Homo sapiens: one gene and its partner. The protein of the gene in region 2 interacts with the protein of the main gene of each other region in a pairwise test. Each region holds a gene or a part of one and is shown on either strand. Other genes may lie near its edges. The genes, in order: RNF115 and CDK10.

Region 1 (3,813 bases), on a different chromosome or scaffold from region 2:
AGTGCCAAACTCCTGGGCTCAAGCAATCCTCTCCTGCCTTGGGTTCCCAAAGTGTTGGTATAACAGGTGTGAGCCACAGCATGCCCCAGTGAGGGATGGTTCTTGGTATCCAACTATCACAAGAGTCAGTACCCTCTTTGTTTACTTTGTTTTTATAAAATTTATCCATATCTGATTTTAACTGGGGTATTAAGCCTTTTTATATATTGACTATAAATGGTTTTTAGGTTTTAGGTCCTTCATTTTGCTCTTTGTTTTCTACACATATTTTTTTTGATTTTAGGTTTGGGGGCACATATGTACATTTGTTACACGGACAAACTGTGTCACTGGAATTTGGTGTACTGATTATTTCGTCACCCAGCAACTGACCATAGTACAAGATAGGCAGTTTTTTGACCCTCATCCTCCTCTTACCCTCACCACCTCAAGTAAGCCCTCGTGTCCATGTTTATGCCCATGTGTACTCAATGTTTAGCTCCCACTTTTAAGTGAGAACACGTGGTACTTGGCTTTCTGTTCCTGCTTTAATTCACTTAGGATAATGACCTCCAGCTGCATCCATGTTGCTGCAAAGGACATGATTTCGGTTTTGTTTTTTTTAAATAGCTGTATAGTATCCCATGATGTATATGTACCATATTTTCTTTATTAAGTCCACCACTGATGGGCATCTAGGTTGATTCCATGTCTTTGCTCTTGTGAACAGTGCCACAATAAACATACAAGTGCATGTGTCTTTTTGGTAAAACGATTTATATTCCTCTGGGTATATACCCAGTAATGGATTGCTGGGCAGAATGGTAGTTCCGTTTTAAGTTCTTTGGGAAATCAAACTGCCTTCCACAGTGGCTGAACTAATTTACATTCTCACCGGCAGTGTATAGGCATTCCCTTTTCTCCACAACCTTGCCAACAACTGTTATTCTTTAACTTTCTAATAATAGCTATTCTGACTGGTGTGAGATGGTATCTCGCTGTGGTTTTGGTTTGCATTTCTCTGACGATTAGTAATCCTGAGCATTTTTTCATATGCTTATTGGGCTGCATATATGTCTTCTTTTGAGAAGTGCGTAGGCAAAAAAACCAAAATCATACCAACCACACTCTCGGATTATAGTGCAATTAAAATAGAAATCAATACTAAAAAGGTCTCTCAAAACTATACAATTACATGGAAATGAGACAACTTGTTCCTGAATGACTTTTCAGTAAAAAATGAAATTAAGGGAGAAATCAGAAAGTTCTTTGAAACTAATGAAAACAAAGATACAGCATACCAGAATCACTAGGATACAGTTAAAGCAGTATTAAGAGGAAAGTTTATAGCACTAAACACTTCCATCAAAAAGCTAGAAAGATCTCAAATTAACAACCTAACATCACACCTAGAGAAACTAGAAAAACAAGAACAAACCAACCCCAAAGCCAGCAGAAGAAATAACCAAAATCAGTGCTGAACTGAATGAAATTGAGATGCGAAAATCCATACAAATAAATGATAAACGAAACCAAAAGTTGGTTCTTTCAAAAAATAAAATTGATAGACCACTAGCTAGATTAATAAAGAAAAAAAGAGAGACGATCTAAATAAACACCATCAGAAATGACAAAACTGACATTACCACCAATCCCACAGAAATACAAAGAACCCTCAGAGACTATTACAAACACCTTTATGCACACAAACTAGAAAACCTAAAATTCCAGATAAATTCCTGGAAACATACAACCTCACAAGACTGAACCAGGAAGAAACTGAAATTCTGAACAGACCAATGACGAGTTCCAAAATTGAATCAGTAATAAAAAACCTGGCCAGGGCCATGGCTCATGCCTACAATCCCAGCACTTTGGGAGGCAAAGGCAGGCGGATCGCTTGAGCCTAGGAGTTCAAGACCAGGCTGGGCAACATGACGAAACCTTATCTCTCAAAAAAAAAAAAAAAAAAAAAAAAAAAAACAGCCAGGTGTGGTAGCACATACCCGTAGGTCCAGCTACTCAGGAGGCTAAGGTGGGAGGATCACCTGAGTCTGGGAAGTCGAGGCTGCAGCAGTGAGCCGTGATCATGCCACTGAACTCCAGTATGGGCGACACAGTGAGACCCTGTCTCAAAAAATAATGAAAAATAAAAAACTTACCAATCAGAAAAGGCCCTGGACCAGACGGACTCACAGCCAAACCCCACCAGACACGAAGAAGAGCTTGTACCAATCCTACTGAAATTATTCCAAAAAATCGAGGAGGGACTCTTCCCTAACCCATTCCATGAGGCCAGCAGCATTCTGATACCAAAACCTGGCAAAGACACAATGAAAAAAGAAAACTCCGGGCCAATATCCCTAATGAACACAGACACAAAAATTCTAAATAAAATACTAACAAACTGAACCAGCAGCACATTAAAAAGCTAATGCAGGCCAGTGTGGTGGCTCACACCTGTAATCTCAGCACTTTGGGGGGCCAAGGCAGGCAGATCACTTGAGGTCAGGATTTCAAAGCCAACCCGGCCAACACGGGGAAACCCCATCTCTACCAAAAATACAAAAATTAGCCAGGTCTAGTGGTGCAAACCTGTAATCCCAGGTATCTGGGAGGCTGAGGCACGAGAATCGCTTGAACCCAGGAGGCAGAGGTTGCAGTGAGCTGAGCTCGTTCCACTGCACTCCAGCCTGGGCTAAAGAGCAAGACTCCATCTCAAAAAAATAAATAAATAAAAATTAAAAGCTAATCTACCACAATCAAGTAGTCTTTACTCCTGGGATGCAAGGTTAGTTCAACATAGGCAAATCAATAAATGTGATTCATCACATAAACAGAATTAAAAACAAATACCACATATCAGGCCAGCCGCAATAGCTCATGCCTGTAACCCCAGCACTTTGGGAGGCTGAGGCAGGCAGATTGCTTAAGCCCAGAAATTTGAGACCAGCCGGGGCAACATGGCAAAATCCCATCTCTACAAAAAAGAAAAAAAAATTAGCCAGGCATGGTGGAACACACCTATCTACTACTACTCAGGAGGATATAGTGGGAGGACACATTGAGCCCACAAATTCAAGAACAGCCTGGGCAACAAGACAGAATAAATTCTGTCTCTATTTAAAAAGAAAAAAAGAGGCCGGGTGCAGTGGCTCACACCTGTAATCCCACCACTTTGGGAGGCCAAGGTGGGCATATCACAAGGTCGAGATGGAGACCATCCTGGCCAACATGGTGAAACCCCGTCTCTACTAAAAATACAAAAATTAGCTGGGCATGGTGGCACGTGCCTGTAGTCCCCACTACTTGGGAGGCCGAGGCAGGAGAACTGCTTGAACCCAGGAGGTGGAGGTTGTAGTGAACCGAGATCGCACCACTGCACTCCAGCCTGGTGACAGAGCGAGACTCAGTCTCAAAAAAAGAAAAAGGGAATATACTGTATATTTGAAAATTGCTAAGACAGATTTTAAGTGTTCTCACCACGCAAAAATAAGTATGTGAGGTAATGCATGTTAAATAGCTTGATTTAACCATTCAGTGTATACATATATCAAATCATGCTGAACACTATAAAAAATATAGTATACAACTTTTAGTTGTGAAAAAAACATGATTTATTAAATATTTCTCCCTTCTTCATCAACTCCCTCTTCCTTTTGCTACCTCACAGTCTTTGGAATTCTCAATCTGAAATGTACCCATCCCTCAAAACTCAATTTAAATCCCACTGGCCACACCAATGCTATGAAATTCCCCTCTCTGAATCCTAAAGCACATATCCTCATTCCCTTTATGCTGTTACTTTTTCTATGTTTGCCTTGTCTTTCCCCA
Region 2 (3,813 bases):
CCTCAGCAACTCTGGAGGAGTCACCTGAGCCCAGGTGTTTTTTCTTTTTGTTTGTTTTTGAGATGGGTCTTGCTCTATTGCCCAGACTGGAGTGCAGTGGCATGATCATAGCTCACTGCGGCCTCGACCTCCTAGGCTCAAGTGATCCTCCCACCTCAGCCTCCTGAGTATCTGGGACCACAAGAGTACATAAGCACACCCAGCTAATTTTTAAATTTTTGGTAGAGATGGGATCTCCCTATGTTGCCCAGGCTGGTCTTGAACTTCTGGGCTCAAATGATCCTCCTGCCTCGGCCTCCCAAAGCACTGGGATTACAGGTGTGAGCCACTGCACCCGGCCAAGCCTAGGAGTTTGAGGCTGCAGTGAGCTGTGATCACGCCACTGCACCCCAGCCTTGGCAACAGAGTGAGACCCTGTCTCAAAAAAACCAAAAACACCACACACAACTAAAGGTTATAACAGATGTGAAATTGGCGTAGGTCATTCTGGAAGCTGCACACATTAGCAGGATGTTTTGTAGAGCCATCTTCACACAAAATAAGGTTTGCTTTTTTCTGCATAGAGTACCTTATTTGCTTTTAGGACATTACAAGAGAGCACAAAGCAGTGATCTGCATGCTAAGGAGGACATGGAGAGCCTGGAGCCACAGAACTGAGTGGCTGGAGGCCAGGGTCCAGCACAGAGCAAAGTTGGGCACCCCCTGCCCAGTTCAAATGAGGAAACCCTCCGGGGGAACGCGTCTCGGGCTAGGGGCGTTGCACAGAGTGGGGACTGAGTGTCACTGGGCATGAGGTTGTCAGAGGAAAGAACGGGGACCCCTGTGGCTCAGGGAGAGCCTCCCGTTCAGCGCTAGGGAGCCCACGAGGGGCATCGAGATGATGTCATCACCAATGTGTTTCCATTCCAGATCGGGCCCGGGACACCCAGACAGATGAGATTGTCGCACTGAAGAAGGTGCGGATGGACAAGGAGAAGGATGGTGAGCAGGAAATTGGGGTGTTGGGACCTCGCACTGGGAGGAGGCAGAAGGATGTGAGTTACCTGAAGTTTCCTCAGAGCGACTGCACGGTGCTTGTAGCGGGGGCCGGCCTCTGGGAGGGTTCTGGTGTGGCCCAGCACATCACCCCCAGGTCCACACGCAGCCTCAGCTGTCTGCCAGGAGGGCTCTGCAGTCTCCATCCCCTCCTCCCCCTCCTGTCTGGTGAGGCCACCTCACTGCAGGCTCAGCTCTGCTGTCCCCTCCACCCCCAGCACCTGCCTGTGCAGGCAGGGCCCTGCCATGCCCCACATAGATGTCCACGGTGTTTAGAGAGGTGCCGATTCGTATTTGGTCAAGGAAGAGTTAAAAGTGCTTATTGGGCCGGGCATGGTGGCTCATGCCTGTAATCCCAGCACTTTGGGAGGCCGAGGCAGGCGGATCACCTGAGGTCGGCAGTTCAAGACCAGCCTGACCAACATGGAGAAACCCCATCTCTACTAAAAATACAAAATTAGCCAGGCGTGGTGGCACATGCCTGTAATCCCAGCTACTAGGGAGGCTGAGGCAGGAGAATTGCTTGAACCCGGGAGGCAGAGGTTGCGGTGAGCCGAGATGGTGCCATTGCACTCCAGCCTGGGCAACGAGCGAAACTCCGTCTCAAAAAAAAAAAAATGCTTATTGGGGTCGCCCCAATTCTCCCTGAGGTGGGGACACTGCAGCACCTGCTATCAGGTGTTCGTGAAGCCCAAGAGTGGCTGGGGTTGGGGCTTCCCCGCCATCACTGGGGTGGGGCTCGCTGAGGCCACCTCCCTCCCCAGGCATCCCCATCAGCAGCTTGCGGGAGATCACGCTGCTGCTCCGCCTGCGTCATCCGAACATCGTGGAGCTGAAGGAGGTGGTTGTGGGGAACCACCTGGAGAGGTACGTGGTCTCCTGGTCTGCACATTGGGCCCTAGGGAGCATGTGTCTTGGGCTAGAGGTGTTGCACAGAGCGAGGACTGAGTGTCACTGGGCATGAGGTTGTCAGAGAAGAGATGACCCCACCTCACCGCCTGGCTCAGCCCATTGTCTGAGGGGGACACAGGTTGTCCTGCCCATGTCCCCTCCTGCAGCAGGGGAGGCTCCACTTCCACCCCTTAGGAGAAGGCCGGAGAGTGGCATGCATCTTCTGTTTCTTCCAGCATCTTCCTGGTGATGGGTTACTGTGAGCAGGACCTGGCCAGCCTCCTGGAGAATATGCCAACACCCTTCTCGGAGGCTCAGGTGCGTGGCAGAGGGGCCTGGGGTGGGGGAATGGGCTTCATGGGCCCTTGTGGTGCACATTTATAACGAAACAGGGCACTTGGGGACTTGAAGAGCTGCTGCTGCCTCTGCCTCCACCTCCCAGTGTTTCAGCGAGCTTCAGTGAGGTGGAATTCCTGTGGTGGGGGCATCTGCTGGGAGCGGGCAGCCCCAGGGCCGAGAGCCTTATGAGGGCACTGGTTTCCTGGGCTGTTGGGAGCAGGCAGCCCCGGGGCTGAGAGCCTTCTGAGGGCACTGGTTTCCTGGGCTGCTGGGAGCGGGGAGCCCTGGGCGGAGAGCCTTCTGAGGGCACTGGTTTTCTGGGCTGCTGGGAGAGTGCAGCCCCGGGGCCAAGAGCCTTGTGAGGGCACTGGTTTCCTGGGCTGCTGGGAGCGTGCAGCCCCGGGGCCGAGAGCCTTCTGAGGGCACTGGTTTCCTGGGCTATTGGGACTGCTAGTCCTGCTGGCCAGTGTGGGTGTGGCAGGGCCCAGCTGGGCTTCCCTGCAGGCTCACCCTGACTGGTACCTCTGACCCTCTGCACAGGTCAAGTGCATCGTGCTGCAGGTGCTCCGGGGCCTCCAGTATCTGCACAGGAACTTCATTATCCACAGGTGGGTGACAGCTAGGCAGAGTTGGAAGCACAAATTCGGCTGAGGCCTAACTCTGCTGCCCCTGTGGAGTTACTAAAAGCTCAGGGGTTCCCAGCTGCAGCAGCCTGCCCGCTGCTCGCACTCCATTTGTGTTTTTTTCTAAAATAGAGAAGGGGTCTCTCTGTGTTGCCCAGGCTGGTCTCACACACTTGGGCTCAAGTGATCCACCCACCTTGGCCTCCCAAAGTGCTGGGATTACAGGTGGGAGCCACCACACCCAGGCATGCACTCCGATTTTTAAAAGGTCCAAACATCAACAGCATGTAAGAGTTAATGAAAAAAAAAATAATAAAGATACTACGCCGGGCACAGTGGCTCACGCCTGTGATCCCAGCACTTTGGGAGGCCGAGGCAGGCGGATCACGAGGTCAGGAGATCGAGACCATCCTTGTTAACACAGTGAAACCCCATCTCTACTAAAAATACAAAAAAATTAGCCGGGCGTGGTGGCGGGCGCCTGTAGTCCCAGCTACTTGGGAGGCCGAGGCAGGAGAATGGCGTGAACCCGGGAGGCGGAGCTTGCAGTGAGCCGGGATTGCTCCACTGCACTCCAGCCTGGGCGACAGAGTGAGACTCTGTCTCAAAAAAAAAAAAAAAAGATACTAAAAAGCCCAAAGCTGAGGAAACGTGCAGGAAGTCTACGGGCATTGGTGCCGTGGGGGAGCTCTCAGCCCCTGTGGCCCTCTGGGAGCCACCTGCCACTGTTTTTCCATCACAGGGACCTGAAGGTTTCCAACTTGCTCATGACCGACAAGGGTTGTGTGAAGACAGGTGGGTGCAACTTGGGCCAGGCCCTGTCCCTAGATGGCACTTGGTGACACACACTCCCCTCTCTGCTGCAGCGGATTTCGGCCTGGCCCGGGCCTATGGTGTCCCAGTAAAGCCAATGACCCCCAAGGTG

What was found.
Region 1: the proteins of CDK10 (region 2) and RNF115 interact in a two-hybrid assay, tested with the Homo sapiens proteins (one study listed by BioGRID).

Annotation. Positions count from the first base shown.
Region 1 is NC_000001.11:145,817,339-145,821,151, forward strand, and holds part of RNF115 (E3 ubiquitin-protein ligase RNF115), read right to left. Parts: intron 1-3,813. UniProt on the Homo sapiens protein: E3 ubiquitin-protein ligase that catalyzes the 'Lys-48'- and/or 'Lys-63'-linked polyubiquitination of various substrates and thereby plays a role in a number of signaling pathways including autophagy, innate immunity, cell proliferation and cell death.
Region 2 is NC_000016.10:89,689,644-89,693,456, forward strand, and holds part of CDK10 (cyclin-dependent kinase 10), read left to right. Parts: intron 1-909; coding exon 910-981; intron 982-1,799; coding exon 1,800-1,902; intron 1,903-2,162; coding exon 2,163-2,244; intron 2,245-2,805; coding exon 2,806-2,873; intron 2,874-3,630; coding exon 3,631-3,683; intron 3,684-3,754; coding exon 3,755-3,813. UniProt on the Homo sapiens protein: Cyclin-dependent kinase that phosphorylates the transcription factor ETS2 (in vitro) and positively controls its proteasomal degradation (in cells).